Linked DNA regions of Homo sapiens: all the other regions are linked to region 1. The links come from fine-mapping of genetic effects on gene expression. A gene starts in region 1. Each other region holds a variant in brackets. All regions are shown on one strand. Distances are from middle to middle. Region 1 holds the start of MIATNB (MIAT neighbor). Region 2 overlaps MIATNB (MIAT neighbor). Region 3 overlaps MIATNB (MIAT neighbor).

Region 1 (5,226 bases):
CTCCTATCTCTTGCTACATTCCACATGAACCTTCCAGAACCTCTTTGGATCCTCTCTGATCCCCAGAAACTGGTGTCCACCACTCTCGCTGCCCGGAACTCATCCCCACCCACACTCCACCCAGCCACAGCTCAGCTTAGATGCCTCCCTCTCCAGAAAGCCACCACAGGGTGGATTAGGTGTCTCTCTGTCCCCATTCCACCCCCCTGCACCCAACACACTAGAATTAAAGCTCCTGAAGACCAAATGGTGTTTAACTACCACTACATCCCCAATGCCTGGCACACGCCTGGCACAGAGTAGGTGCACATCAATCTTGTCTGTCTCCTTGGTGCTCCCACAGACCCCTGACCAATCATAACACCCATCTCACTGAATCACTATCTACTTCACCAACTCTCCCACTAGGCTATAAAAGCACCATGACGAAAAAGCCCAGGTGCAGGTCCCAGCGCCCAGAGCAGTGCCTGGCACATAGTAGATCCTTAGCAGCATCAAGTCTTTGCAGTTAAACAAAGAGGAGTTTCAGGAATAGGAGGTGTGAGCTTCCTGCTTTGAGTGAAATGGAGCAAGGCAGCCACTAGAGGATGGCAGGCAGGCACTTCCGGGTGTAGACTACCCCATCCAAGGTCCCTGCCAGCAGCCAAGGCATGTTCTCAAAGCTCTTTCTAAGACATCTTTTCTCTCTTGTGCCCTCTGCAGCTCAGGCCTCTGGATCACCCTTCACCCCCACTGCCAACTACAATTGGTTAGCTCTGAGTCCACAGTTGCCAGAGAAAAGGGCTCTCAGCACCAGACTAGCATTCAACGACCCAAGCAACCTGCCTCTAAGGTCTGTAAGCCAGCCTTTGACCTGTCCCTAAACTGATCCAATCCTCCAGGCCCTGCCTTGAACTGTCTTCTCCTGCAGACTCTGACTACCAGACTGAGTCAGCAAAACCTTGAACTAGTGCCACCTTTTACCTGCACCTGGAATCCCTTGCGTATGCTCCCTGCCCCTCTACTCCCAAAGGACGTTCCCTCAGTCTAAAGAGATCAAAAGTCCCTTCCAGAAAAACTCCCGTTTCCTCGGTGCAGCTAAATTGCACAGAAGAGTTTATGCTAGAAGAGCTAAAAGTTAGAACAGGAAGCTCAGATAATTTATACTACTAACATGTAAATGACTGACGGAGTTATAACCCTTCTGAATACTCTGATCTAAAGCTTTATGTCCTAGAACTTCCAAAACACAAAGTCCCCAAAATGAAGACTCTAGGCCCTGGCCTGGGGAAGGGTGACTCTATACAAAATGGCATATGCTCTGTAGACACCAGACAGGTATTTTAAGGTTTATAAGAGCTGCATCTACTTGTGCAAACTACTGTAGCTATAAGGCTATATTTTTTTAAGAACTGAAACCAAATGCAGACTATGAGGAGTGAAGATATGCCCAATGGCCAAAACCTTGCAAGACTGGCTATACTTCTGACCCCACCTTGGTGGGTACCACTGCTCCATCAGGCCTGGTCCACACCAGAGCCCTGGCACCTCCTTTAGAAAACTACCATCTTTACCGACTTCTGATTGTTCTGACTCAGAGCAGCCACCACGCCCAAAATTGTTAGCTATGCTTTTCCCTGTGTTAGTCAAGTTCAAACCTGTGTTAGCCAAGTTCAAACCTGTGTTAGCCAAGTTCAAAGCTGTGTTAGCCCCTTCCCAGCCATGCCGACATCCAAGCTGTTAACAGTAACGAGGAATGTTAGACCTGTTGTTAGTCAGAAAAAAATCCACAAACCATTAGTTTCTGCTGAAAGGAACAGACCAGGAAGGCAGGAGTTAGTCAAGGTGAAGGAAAGGTTAATTAAGAACCGGTCAGGGCCAGGCCAGGAGCCTGGAACCCCCAGACAGGGCCAGGTTGGTTGTTAGTGGTCAGCCCCTGGGGCAGTCAGGGTGAGGCAGGGATTAGCTGGGTGAGAGCAAGAGTTAGCGCAAGGGAGCCAGAGATTAGCCCAAAGAAACCAAGGTGCCTACTGGAGGTGAGGCATGAAATCACCCCCAGGTGTGGCCCCGGCTTAGCGGCTGGCGGGCTCTGGGGGAGGCTGGCTGAGGCAGTGACGTCCGTGGGAACAGAGAGCCAGAGATGCATTCCTGGCCGGCCTGAGCATCTGCGGGAACCCTGTGAGCCCCTGAGGTTCACTTCTTGCTCCCCACTTCTCTCTCCTGCAAACTCCGAGCCCGGGGTAAAGCTGCTTCCCCTCCCCACACCCCTTTTCAACCCGACAACTAACGCCCTCTAGCTTCCGGGAATGGGACGGATCTTTCCCAAGGACTTCCGGTCACGGCCCCACGTCTACTTACGGTGGGGGAAACCGGCCTCTCTCGGCTCCAGAGAGGGGAGACGGCTCTCTAGCTGACTTCCTGTGTGGGAAAGAGTCCTCTCACTGACTTCCGGTGTCAGAAATGTCCCTCTTTCCGGCCTTCAAATATGAGAAATGTTTCTCTGGCCGACTTCCTGTGTACTAAATACTCCACTCAGTGGTTTTTAGCGTAGGAAAGACCCGCTTCATTGACTTCCGGTGTAAGAAAGGCTCCGCTTTCTGACTTCCGGTGTGGGACACGCCCCTCTGCTAATTTCCGGTGAGGGGCACGCCCCCTCCTGCCTTCCTCGTGGGATACGCCCCCCTCGTGACTTCCTGTGCAGGACAGCTTCTATCCCCGTCACTTAACAATGGAGAGGATTCTTCCCCAGCTTCCTTCCAGAGGACACAAAAGCTCAGAGCTCCACAGTCTAGAGTCTAGACCAACAGGCCTCCACACTCACGTCCCAGAGATTTCCCTGGTCCCACCTACTCCCAGTGGCAACCAGACTTCTGCACATAGGAGAGATGTCATACTCAGAGTCCAGCCTCCCACATCCACAGGACCACCTCTTCCTCCTCTGAGTCTTGTTAATAGGGCCATCCCCTGCCTTAGACCTGGCCCAGTGGACTCTGATCTTACAGCCAATATGGGGCAGCAAAGTGGGACATCTGTCTACAGGGCCAGTAGCCCCAGGTCATCTGCTTGCCAAAAGGAGGGGGACCAGCCCCCGGGGGGAGCCCAGAGCTCGGCAGGGCTGGGGTTAGTAAGAAGAGAAAACAGGGTTAGTAGGGGCTGGGTTAGTAAGTCAGAGCACAGCACCAGCGGACAGGGCACCTCAGCAGACACACACAGGAGTCGCTAAGAGAAAAGGAAGAACGCACGCAGGTCCGTTAGTTTGTTAAGGGATGATCGGGGTGCAGTTGAGGCACCCCAGGGGTTAGACGGGTTAGTAATCGAACAAAAGAGCTGCCTACAGAAAAGAAAGCTGAGACGGAGGAAGAATGTGGGGAAGTGACATGGATTCAAAGCCAAGTGTCTTGCCCCAGGCAGAAGGATCTGTGTGCAGAACACCCAGAGAGGCCAGGGCCTAGGCAGCAGACGTGTTCAACCAGGTTTGAGGGGCCTTCCTCCATCCTCATACTTTTTTTTTTTTTAGGTGTCTGCCATGTGCTGAGACCCTTATATTGACGGGAATCCTCACTGCAACCTGTAAGGTATCAGAACTCGCATTCTACCACTGAGGAAACTGAGGTTGAGAGAAGTGAGGTGACTTACTCAAACTCACTCAACAGGAAGTGGCAGAGTTGGTGAGTCTTATTTGCATTCTCTGTCCTGGAACGTGGGTCTGCACAAAGATCCCAGCCCATAGGCAGAGCCTTCTGGAGCCTTGGCTGCCCCCATATCCCAGCCCCTTGAAAGGCCCATGAGCTGCACAGTTAGTAGGATCTGGCTGCGGGGGGGTGGTTAGTAGGGCATGCTCGGGCCTGGTTAGTGGGTTAGTTGGTTGGCAGAAGGCCAGGCACCTCGTCACACGCCACAGCGTCCCGGCTGAGCCCTGGGTTAGTAGGTTAATCACACCATGCAACACTGCCCCGGCCCCTCCAGCTGCAGCTTCAGAGGCCTCCCGCCCCCACCAGCCAGGGAGTGGGGCCTGACCAGGGCAGGGGGTCTAACTCTAAGCCCCCCAGCCCCATCAAAATCAACCCTAACCACATGGACCCTGCCCAAAAGCATGTTGCTTCCCTATTTATTGGCTGTGGGTCTCAGAGCACCCCCTGCAAATATTTCAGCTCCCCTGAAAATGGACCCTACTTGTCCTAGACAGAAACCCCCTGCCTGGTTCTGGTCAGCCCCTTCCCAGAGGGCTGGATCCTGTTACACTCTGACAGACACACGCACACCCGCATCTCTCCGCAAAAGATCTGACAACCGTGCTTAGTAGACATCTCTTCCATCACCGACTGTCAGGCCTCTAGTTTCTCCAACTATTGGCCTGCCCTCCCACCATTAGAAAAAAAAAAAACGCATCAAGCTGGCCTGGCTCCTGGAACCAAGTTGAGACTCCCCCACGCCCACCCGGTCTGCTTCCTTTTCAGCCAATGCTACAAAGCACCTAAGTGTACCCTAATTATGCCATCTTCTATCACTGCTGTACTTTTCCCATAGAAACCCCAGCCTAGCATCTCCCACAGTTCTAAACGATGTTCCATGAGAAAAAGATTCTACGGCCATAAAAGTCAAGGAACACTTCATCCTATGCCCTGTCCCTGAGTATTTGAAATTGCCATTAGCATTTTAAAGGTTCTGATAAGTCCTGCACTACTTCAGTAGTGCAGCGGAATTTGAATTAGAACCTGCTTTTTTTTTTTTTTTTTTTTTTTTAAGGAGCAATGACATTTCCTAGAAGTTACTTTAAGAATTTCCCTAGAGGGTCGGGTATCATCTCAGCCAGATCTTTCTCATCCTTCAAGGCCCTGTTTGGTACAGCTTGCTAGGAAGCTGTTCCAGACTGCAGCAGCCCTCTCTGGGGTCTCTCTACCACTTCCCAGGCACTCAGAACTTGTGCCTCAGTAGACTGTTTTGTGGCACTGTCCCATTCTCTGATTCTCCATGTGAGCTGGTTTTATCCCATCCAGCATGGCTGTGAAATCCTAAAGGTTCAAACCCCAGCCACTCTTCACCTATATTTCCCCCAAATGGCTAGCACGGGAAAGGGCCCAAAGTAGGTGCTCAGTGCTGATGAGAGAGTAGAATTTAAATACCCCAGGAAGCATTGTGAGTTACTACGGAGGCCATGAAATGCTGCCACCTCCCCAAGCTGATTAAAGAGTGATACTAGGAAAATAGGTAGGGAAGGGCTAATCAGAAATGCCTCTGGTTCAGAAG
Region 2 (5,226 bases), 21 kb before region 1:
TGAAATAGGCCGGGCGCGGTGGCTCACGCCTGTAATCCCAGCGCTTTGGGAGGCTGAGGCAGGCGGATCACGAGCTCAGGAGATCGAGACCATCCTGGCTAACACGGTGAAACCCCAACTCTACTAAAAATATAAAAAATTAGCCGGGCGTGGTGGCAGGCGCCTGTAGTCCCAGTTACACAGGAGGCTGAGGCAGGAGAATGGCGTGAATCCAGGAGGCGGAGGTTGCAGTGAGCCGAGATCGCACCACTGCACTCCAGCCTGGGCGACAGAGCGAGACTCTGTCTCAAAAAAAAAAAAGAATGAAATACTGATACATGCGACAACATGGATGAACCTTGAAAACATGCTAAGTGAAAGAAGCCAAGCATGTATTGTACAATTCCATTTATATGAAATACCCAGAATAGTCAAACTGATAGAGACAGAAAGCTGATTAGTGGTTGCCTAGGTTTTGCGGGAAGGAGGCAAGGGGGAGTGACTGCTAATAGTTGTGGGATTTCCTTTCAGGGTAATGAAAATGTTCTGGAACCAGATAGTGATGATGCTTATACAACCTTGTGAATGGACTAAAGGCCACTGAATTGTCCACTTTAGAAAGGTTAAAATGGCAAATTTTAGGTTATGTGTCTTTCACCACAACTCTTAAAATCTAGGAACATAAATAAATAGATGGACTGGGAAACCACCCAGTAGCTCCTCAGCACGCCCAAGAATAAAATCCAAAAGACAAGCTCTTACCTACAAGGCCCTACATGAGTTATCCTCCCCTCTCTCATTCAGCTCCTTGCTGATCTTTGAACACATCAAGCAGGATCCCACCTCAGGGCCTTTGCTCCTGCTGTCTCCCTCTACCTGGCAGGTCAGGTCTCCACTCTGCTCACTCCATCTACCTCACATAGGCCATGGCAGATAGACTCAAAGGGGCTCCCAATGCCCCCCACCTCTCAGTATTTACCCATTTGTATAACCTCCACCCTTACATATGGGCAGGACCAAGAGCTTGCTTCTAATCAATAGAATACAATAAAGAGGACCCAGCATGGTGACTCATGCCTGTAATCCCAGCACTTTGGGAGGCTGAGGCAGGCAGATCACTTGAGGTCAGCAGTTGGAGACCAGCCTAGCCAGCATGGTGAAACCCTGTGTCTACTAAAAATACAAAAAAATTAGCCCAGTGTGGTCGTGCATGCCTGCAATCCCAGTTACTCAGGAGGCTGAGGCAGGAGAATCACTTGAACCCGGGAGGTGGAGGTTGCAGTGAGCCGTGATTGCACCACTGCAGTCCAGCCTGAGTGGCACAGCAAGATTATTCCATCTCAAAAAAAAAAAAAAAAACCCACAGAGGAAAGAATACAATAAAGGGGACAGGAGGCTGCTCTCATGACTACATCATATAAGACTGTAATTAATGCCCATCTTGCTAGGAGACTCTCCTTGCTGGCTTTGATGAAGCAAGCAGCCACACTGGGGTGGGCCATGTGCAGTAGCCTCTGGCCAACAAACAGCCAGGCAGTGAGGGCTGCTTCCATCTTATAGCCAGCAAGAAACTGAGGCCCTCAGTCTTACAGCCCACAAGGAACTGAATTCTGCCAACAACCCCATGAGTTTGGAAGTGGATCCTTCCCCGGTTGAGTTTCAAGTGAGGCTACAGCCCCAACCAATACTTTGACTATAGGTTTTAGAGGAGATTCTGAAGCAGAGGACACAGCCTAGGTTCTTGGCCCTCAGACACAGTAAGATAATAAATATATGCTGCTTTCAGTTTGTGGCCATTTGTTATGTAGCGTTGGTGCATGGGTCCCTGTTCAAATGTCACCTCCTTAGAGAAGTCTTTTCTGAATTCGCTTTCTAAAACAGAATTTGTCTGACACAGAAAGATAAATACTGTATGACCTCACCTATATTTGGAATCTAAAAGAGTCAAAGCATAGAGACATAGACTAAAATACTGGTTGCCAGAGGTTGGAGGGACAGGGAAATGAGATGTTGGTCAAAGGGTACAAAGTTTCAATTAAGCAAGATGGATGAGTTCTGGAGATCTAATGTATGGCATAATGATTACAGTTAATAATATATATTTGAAATTTGCTAAGAGGGTAGGTTTCACCACAAAAAAAGACAATTATGTGAGGCGATGAACGTGTCAAATAGCTTGACTATAAGGATCATTTCACAACATATATGTATATTACAGCATCAAGTTGTACCCCTTAAACATTACCCAATTATATTTGGGTATTGGTCAATCTATTTGTCAATTATGTCCAAATAAAATAAAATCTGATCCACCGTTACTTTCCACAGTTACCCTGACTTTTTTCTCCATATCCCTTGCTGCAATCTGACTCATTATATGTTTATTTACAAATACATAATCTTGAGAGCAAGGATCTAGTCTGTCCTGGTCATCTCTGCATCTCCAGTGCCTCTCATGGAACTTGGCACATAGCAGACATTCAATAAATAAGGAATGACCGAACAATCAGCCATCTTTATATAGGCTTCACTATGGGCACTCGCCTTAGTTGTCCTCACCATGACCCAGCAAGCTGGTATAATTATTCCCATTTTATGAATGTAAAAAGTGAGGCTCAGTGGTAAAGAATGACACACCCAAGCTCATATAGCTGGTAAATGGCAGAACCAACAATTAAATCCAGGTAGCCTCACCCAAAGGTCCATGTTCTTCACTGCCATGCAGGCAACCTCAGATGATCAGCAGCACCTTTGTTCCCATTTTCTTCCTTCTATGAAAGGGGTACTTTTATCCATCCTGGGTCAGTGGCAGGAGGGACTCTCCCCATCCCTTTCTCC[C/A]AGCCCTGCTATCTGTGGACAGGAACAGGTAAAGATCTTCAGAAGCCTTAAGCTTAGAAAAGATGAGGGAGCCCCCTCTGCAATCTCCTATGTAAACTGAAATTAAAACAATGCAAAACCATAAAACCCAAAATATGTGTGCATGTTGATGTTAAAGGAACTGTTTTCTAGATTTCCTGATTCTGGTTGTTGAAGTGCAACCTTTTTCATCCCTTTCATGACCTGACTTTCCTGAGCTCCAAGCCCATCCTTAGCTGACCTCCTGGAGGAGCTAGGTCTGCATATGGGATTTTGAGTAAAGAAGGGAACGAGGGAAAGACAGAATACCCCCGGCAAAGAGAACAGCATGGATGTGCACAGGCCCTGGGGTAGAAGTAAGTACAGCAGAGACAAGGAACTGGAAGAAGAGTCTTAGACATTTGCGAAGTGTAGACACACTATAGGCTAGAAACTGCACTTTTACTTAGGAATTCCACCTAATCTTCACCAGACCTCCATAAGGTAACTACAACTATCAATGCACTTCTACAGTTGAGCAAACTAACACACAGAAAGGCAACACACCTTGCTGTTTTGGTCATCTTAGGCTACACTATGTGATGCTAACAGGTGCCTTCAAAGGTCTCGGTGGCTTAGATAGCAATCATTCATTCCTCTGCAATCTGACAAACCCTTGTAGCTCTGTTTTTGCTCTGCCCCTCCTCACTTCATTCCAGGATGAAGGCAAAGGGAGCAACTCCCTTATGGAAACCTGATGGTCTCAAGGCCAAGGTAAAAAGGGAAGGTGAAGCACAACACTTAGGAAATAGTAAAAATTACCATAGTGTCACAAAGAGGGAAGGGAAAAGGTGACCACACAAGGGTTCTTACAGTGTCTGCCAAAAAGTGGCACATACCACCTCCACTCACTTTCATCCCATTGGCTGAAAGTCACCTGGCCAACCTGACACCAGTTGGGTAGGGATATGAAATCTCCTGTAGAGATGACCACATAGGGAAGGGTCCCCATAAGGTCATGTATTTCAGAAATGGCCAGACAAGAATTCAAACCAAGGTGGATTTTTTCCACACATACATACATCCCCTGCTCCATTCCATCCCCTGGGCTATGCACTTTAGAGAACTCTGTGTCCTCAATAACAGTAAAACTCTGTCCTTCCAAATCATGCCCTGGAAGGAGGAAGCTCCAGCAAAGGAGAGGCAGCTGGGTTAAAAAGATATGAGCATACCTTCCCAAGATGCACCATCCCCTTGGGATCTTATGCATCCTTCAAAACCCAGCTTAAAAGGATGCTGCCTTTCCAGGCTCCCCCAGTTGAGCAGACCTCTCCCTCCCACATGCCCACCGATGAGCACTATACTTTCCTCTCTTAAAGCTCCTGTTCCCCTCCACTGCACGATAATCTGTATACAGGTCCGTTTCTTTCATCAGACTGTAAATAACATGAGGACATAAGAATGGCATCTTGGCCAGGCATAGTGGCTCACACCTATAATCTCAGCACTTTGGGAGGCCGAGGCGAGCAAACTACCTGAGGTCAGGAGTTCAAGACCAGCCTGGCCAACAGGATGAAACCCCGTCTCTATTAAAAATATAAAAATTAGCCAGGTATGGTGGTGGACACCTGTAATCCCAGCTACTCGGGAGGCTGAGGCAGGAGAATTGCTTGAACTTGGGAGGCAGAGATTGCAGTGAGCCAAGATCATGCCACTCCACTCCAGCCAGCCTGGGCAACAGAGGGAGAATCTGGAATCTGTCAACAAAAAAAAAAGATGGAAAGATGAAAGAAAGAAAGAAAGAAAGAAAAAGAAAGAAAGAAAGAAAGAAAGAAAGAAAGAAAGAAAGAAAGAAAGAAAGAAAGAAAAGAAAAGAAAAGAAAAGAAAAGAAAAGAAAAGAAAAGAAAAGAAAAGAATGGAATCTCATTCCGCTCTGAACACAGTGCATAGCTTAAGACATGCAGTAAAAGTCTGATGAATGAATAGATTGGTCAGTGGATATATATGGGTCGATGGAGGTGGAGAGGTTGGAAGTCAAGTTTTGGAATTGAATTAGAATCCCAGCTTTGCCACTTGCTAGCTGTGTGACTCTGGTTTATTTACTTAACCTCTCTGGACCTTTACGAAGTAGAAATATAAGTGTGTCTCTCACTGGATTGTTAGATTGTCAGGAAACGGAAGGGTGCACGGTATGATCTGACTTTAAAGAGATTTGAATTTGAATCTGAACTCTAACACTAGAAGGTGTGTGACTCTAAGAAGTTGCTTGTGCGGCGTATCATCTATTTACCCCTCTTGATCCACTGTCCATCCTCCTCCAACCTACCCAGTCCCTAAGAAGTTGGTCTCTACTGGCTGCATAAATAGGCTGTGCCCCTTCCTCCAGCCTCTTGTTAAGATCAGCCAACGGA
Region 3 (5,226 bases), 76 kb before region 1:
CTTGCACAAAGTCACATAGAAAGTTAGAAGAAGGGCTGGGACTCAGACCTAGTTCTCTGGATGTTAAGACTGCTGGCAGAATTTCTAGATGGGGTGAGAAGGAGAGGCAGGATGTCCCACCCAGACCAGCCTCCATCCTGCACCATAAAGACACTTCCTTCCCTCTGCCCAGAAGTGGAGTCATTTCTCTCTTCCCTTTTAAAGGTGGATTTCTCCTCCAGCTCCTCCCTGCTCCTTCCCCCTCCCCCAGCAGCCACCCCGCTTCCCTGAGCTGCCTTCCTCCCCCTCTCTCTCTCACTCTCCAACACAAAGAGTTGTCAAGGTAACCGCATTGCCAAGGACTCTCTCTTTGTCTGGGGCCCTGGGAGGAAATGCATAAGCCAAGTCGCTGCTCACTGACCCCAGATGACCCCCACAGGGAAGGACAGCCCTGGACCATCTTTTCAAGGACTGCTTGCCTCACCCCACCTATTTCAGCCGACTGCACCCTGATAGCAGCTCCAGGTGGCACATTCCAAGTCCCAACGTGCAAGAGGCTGAGGACCTGGAGGAAGTGTCTTGGGGCATAACTTCCTGGAGACACACTGCTAGAAACACTCAGGGAAAGGAAACAGCAAAGAAAGAGCACACTATGTGCTTGGTACTGGGATGGGCATTGCCGATGGTACAGAGAATAACATCCACTATTGTGCCTGACACTGCAAAGCACCTTGGGTGACACTGAGCATAGCACCTACTGAGTGCTTAGGCCTTTGCTAGACACTGACAGGGCACTGAGCACAGCCCCTACTTTGTGCTTCCCTCTGTGCTAAGATGACGGAGAGGTGCTGGCCATGAGATGAGTTTGAGAAGGAATCTCTGAATGGCAGGTGTTTGAGTCAAGCCTTGAAAATCCTGGTTGAATACACAATGAATAGGGTTGAAGACATTGGACAGGGGGAAAATCAATACTCTCGGAGCTAAGCAGTAACTATGGACCCAGCAGGTCAGGCATGTCCCTTGCTTTAAACAGCAAAGTCAGGATTTGACATCAGACTCATCTGATTCCACGTTCCCTTCCCCCCTGTGGTGGTAACTGATGATGTTCCAGGTGATAGAGTCTCCATCAGCCTGAGTCTGTGGATGAGAAGGATGTGGAGCAGAGCCTCCACCAGCTTGGTTGGTGAAGACTTGGTTTTTGCCCTTTGGTTTTTCCCGGAGGCGTACACCGTGCACACAGAGCACAAGCAGCAAATCAATCTTGGCTGCTCTGTGCCATTAAAACCTGAGCCAGGCTGGGCACGGTGGCTCATGCCTATAATCCCAGCACTTTGGGAGGCCAAGGTAGGTGGATCACCTGAGGTCAGGAGTTTGAGACCAACCTGGCCAACATGGTGAAACCCCATCTTTACTAGAATTAAAAAAAAAAAAAATTAGCCAGGCGTGGTGGTGCACACCTGTAGTCCCAGCTACTCGGTAGGCTGAGGCAGGAGAATTGCTTGAACCCGGAAGGTGGAGGTTGCAGTGAGCTGAGATTGTGCCACTGCACTCCAGCCTGGGCGGCAGAGCAAGACTCCATCTAAAAATAAAAAATAAGAAAATAAAAAATAAAAAATAAACCTGAGCCACTAGATTCCTTAAAGAACTAAAAGTAGAGCTACTATTTGATCCAGCAATCCTACTACTGGGTATCTAGCCAGAGGAAAAGAAAGTCATCATACAAAAAAGATATTTGCCCACACATGTTTATAGCAGCACAATTCGCAATTGCAAAAATATGGAACTAGCCCAAATGACCATCAATCAACGAGCGGATAAAGAAAAGGTGATATATAGATATATATACACCATGGAATACTACTCGGCCATAAACAGGAATAAAATCGAAGCATTCACAGCAACCTGGATGGCATTTGAGACCATTATTCTAAGTGAAGTAACTCAGGAATGGGAAACCAAACATTCCACACTTACAAGTGATAGGTTAGCTTTGAGGACACAAAGGGATAAAAATGACAGAATGAATTTTGCGGACTCACGGGAAAGGGTGGGAGGGGGTGAGGGATAAAAGACTACACATTGGGTATAATGTAGACTGCTGGGGTGAGGGGTGCACCAAAATCTCAGAAATCACCATTAAAAACTTATTCATGTAACCAAACACCATCTGCTCCCCAAAAACCAATTGAAATAAAAAATAAAATTAATAAATTAATAAAAAAAATTTTTAAAAACCTGAGTCACTGTAACTGAGAATTTAGGAGGTATTAGTTATATTGCAGCATATCACAGTCCACTCTGACTGTTACATCATCAGACTGAACCAAAATCCTGCGGCTGGCCCTCCTTGAGTCTCATCTCTGAATCAATCACTGTAGGCTGAGGGCAGCAGTACTCGATTGGCTCAGACCTGGTTCACTGGCCATGCCTACCTCCAGTGAGGGAGGAGAAGGAGTCACCTCTACCCATGTTGTTGGGCTTGGCATGGCCAAGGGTGGCTTTTCAAGGAAGATGGCATGCTGTTACCAGAAAGCGGGGCAGTTGCTGAAAAGGAGATACGAACACGTGTCCACTTTGAGGGCCTCATAGCCAAATGCTGTGCAAGAGGTTCCTACGCTGAATGGGAGACAAGTTCCCAGGCTGCTGCTGCTTCTCACAAGTCTCTGAAATTTGCCTGGAAAAAGATTCTATTGATTTTTTCTGGGTAACGTGGCTTCTTCCCTCAAAGAAGTCCTTTGGTTGC[C/T]GGGAGGCCTGCCAGGCAAGGGGTTGGCTTTCCCCAGGAAGGGTGGAGAAGACTAGGCTGGGGTAGGGAAATCAAGGGGAGAAGGAATGGCCAGCTGCCCCTAGCTGCCCAGGGAGAGGGAGGAGGCCAAGCTTGCTCAGAGCAGTAGTTGGAGACTAGCACGGACACCCCTGTGATCCTTTTTTCTAAAACCCAGATCTTTTGCCTTCACTTCTCTCCTTAAAAACCTTACATGGCTCCTTGCAAACTAAAATCAGCGTTGATTTCTATGCCAGGCACTGAACAACGTATTCCATTTACATTGTTATCCCCCCTAAAACTTCATAAGCAGCTATTAGAGTTTAGAGTTTTAACTCGTGAAAAATATGAGCAAATGAATGCTCAGAATCACAAGTGGCAGAACCAAGGTCACAGAACTCAAAACAGAGCTCCTAGTCTTCACCCACCCATTCAACTTGCCTTAAAAAAAAAAAAAGCTATAGGCCAGGCACAATGGCTCATGCCTGTAATCCCAGCACTTTGGGAGGCCGAGGTGGACAGATCACGAGGTCAGGAGTTCGAGACCAGACTGTCCTATATGGTGAAACCCCGTCTCTACCAAAAAATACAAAAATTAGGTGGGCGTGGTGGTGCTCCCCTATAGTCCCGGCTACTTGGGAGGCTGAGGCAGGAGAATCACTTGAACCTGAGAGGCAGAGGTTGCAGTGAGCCGAGATTGCGCCACTGCACTCCAGTCTGGCCAACAGAGTGAGATTCCATCTCAAAAAACAAAAAAGCTATAAAAATTGAAAAAACAATCTGATGAATACAAAGAGAAATAAAAGAGATAATTAACCTTTACTTGCCACACTCATTCCAGCTACTCTCCCAAGGAAGCACCATTAACTCTTTGTTGAACATCCATCCTGACCTCTCTCTATGGTCAAATAATATGTTTGAGCATTTATTGAGAGCCAAGAATGTGCCAGGGCATCGGAGGTTATTTTCACAGAGAGTGCTTCTCAGGGATGTACAAATTCCCATGCAATTCCATCTATTTTTTTAATGACCTTAACTAGTCAGAGCACATGGCTGAAGAAACTGACAAGTAAACATTTATTGCTAAAACCCAATAGATTAGGTCCCTTTGCAGCTCCAAATTTCCCAACAATCCACACTTCACCTAGAGGAAAGCCAAAGTCCCTGCATCCACCCAGAGGCCCTACAGAATCTGGTCCCTTGGTCACCTCTCCAACTTGGACCTCACCATCTGCCACCCTCTCCCTTCACTTCCTCCAGTAATATCTCACTTTTTTTCAAAAGGCCCCCAGCACGTCCTGCCTCAGAGCCTTTGCACCTGCTGATCCCTGTCCCTGAAACACCCTTCTCCCAGATACCCCCACGGCTCACATCCTCGCCTCCTTTGAAGTCTTTGCTCAAATGTCTCTTTTCCTTAACTAAACTGGACTCTCCCCATCCCCAACAAACACACGAAACCCATTTTACCTTCTTTGTTTCCTCATAGCATCTATTACTGTCCAACATAGTATACAAACCTTGTTTTATCATCTTCCACCACTCACTAGGATGTAGCTTCAGTGAAGTGAGGAATGTGTGTCTATTTTGTTCCCAGCTAAATCCCCAAGGCCTTAGAACAATGCCTGGCATACAGTGGGTGCTTCATAAATGTTTGTTGAATGACTCCATTAATTTAAAGAAGCCATAGTTCAGGCAGCAACATGGCTCAGACAAGATTGAATACTTTTTAGAGCATGTGAACCTCTTTCTTTTTGGAGCCGGCATCCAGCACTGTGAAACTTGAAAAGATCAGCATGCCAGAAGGAATGCAGGGGTTAGGGGAGCAGTCAAAGGGGACTTTCTCCCAAAGTCATTTTCTGCAGATCCCCTTTCCCAGTTCAGCCCAGGGTTGAGGAGTGACATCCCAAATCAGAGGGACCGCAAATCAGATATCCTCAACCCGTCCCTGAGCGATCTCCTTTCCCCTGGATCTACCAGAAACAGGGGTCCTAGAAAGTTGAAAGTCAAAAGCAGGGGTCTTTGGGACCCAGCTTTCGGGGGCAGCTCAGGCTCATCCTGAGGCTGGTGCTGTGGGCTCAGTTCTCCAGGTATGATTTATGCCTATGGCCGAACTTTATTTTCTACTTTTTTGGATTCTGCTCTGAATTTTTTTCTTCTTGGCCTTTTCCTGGGTCAATGCAGTCTTGTTATTTGATTTACTGTTAACAGTATTGACTGCATAGGATTGAGCCAAGAAATGGAAGAAATTGCTTTTTCTCTCTTTCTATCTCCTGTTTGACAACTCAGTCTTAGCACTGGATTTAGCCAAGCTCTGTGAGAGCCAAGGGAGGCAAAGGAAGTGGGAGTGTTGTGGCTTTGCGGCTGGAAGGTGACCCTGGGAGGAAAATGGCAAGGAATTGTCATTGAAAAGGTCCTGTGGCTGTTTTACCTTCTAAATAAGATAAAGATACAGAGAGGGTGTGTTTGAAGTATGGGCTTCAAAGTCA

The links. PIP is the estimated chance that this variant, and not a neighbour inherited with it, causes the effect.
Region 2: its variant is fine-mapped to the expression of MIATNB in whole blood (INTERVAL, PIP above 0.99). The same link has a PIP of 0.9 or more in blood mononuclear cells, esophagus mucosa, lung, monocytes, monocytes after LPS and monocytes after Pam3CSK4.
Region 3: its variant is fine-mapped to the expression of MIATNB in whole blood (INTERVAL, PIP above 0.99). The same link has a PIP of 0.9 or more in sigmoid colon.

Annotation. Positions count from the first base shown.
Region 1 is chr22:26,670,099-26,675,324 of GRCh38, reverse strand. It overlaps MIATNB (MIAT neighbor), which reads right to left and starts at 2,482. Exons shown (of 6, transcript NR_110543.1): 1 at 2,338-2,482. It overlaps MIAT (myocardial infarction associated transcript), which reads right to left. Exons shown (of 5, transcript NR_033320.3): 5 at 1-5,226.
Region 2 is chr22:26,691,284-26,696,509 of GRCh38, reverse strand. All of the region lies in intron 1 of MIATNB (MIAT neighbor), which reads right to left. Among named protein-coding and RNA genes, the nearest start is that of MIATNB, 21 kb to the right of the region's middle. The variant C/A (reference allele first, on the strand shown) is at 2,818.
Region 3 is chr22:26,746,555-26,751,780 of GRCh38, reverse strand. The region is part of intron 2 of MIATNB (MIAT neighbor); the gene reads right to left. Among named protein-coding and RNA genes, the nearest start is that of MIATNB, 76 kb to the right of the region's middle. RefSeq lists an enhancer at 1-767. The variant C/T (reference allele first, on the strand shown) is at 2,723.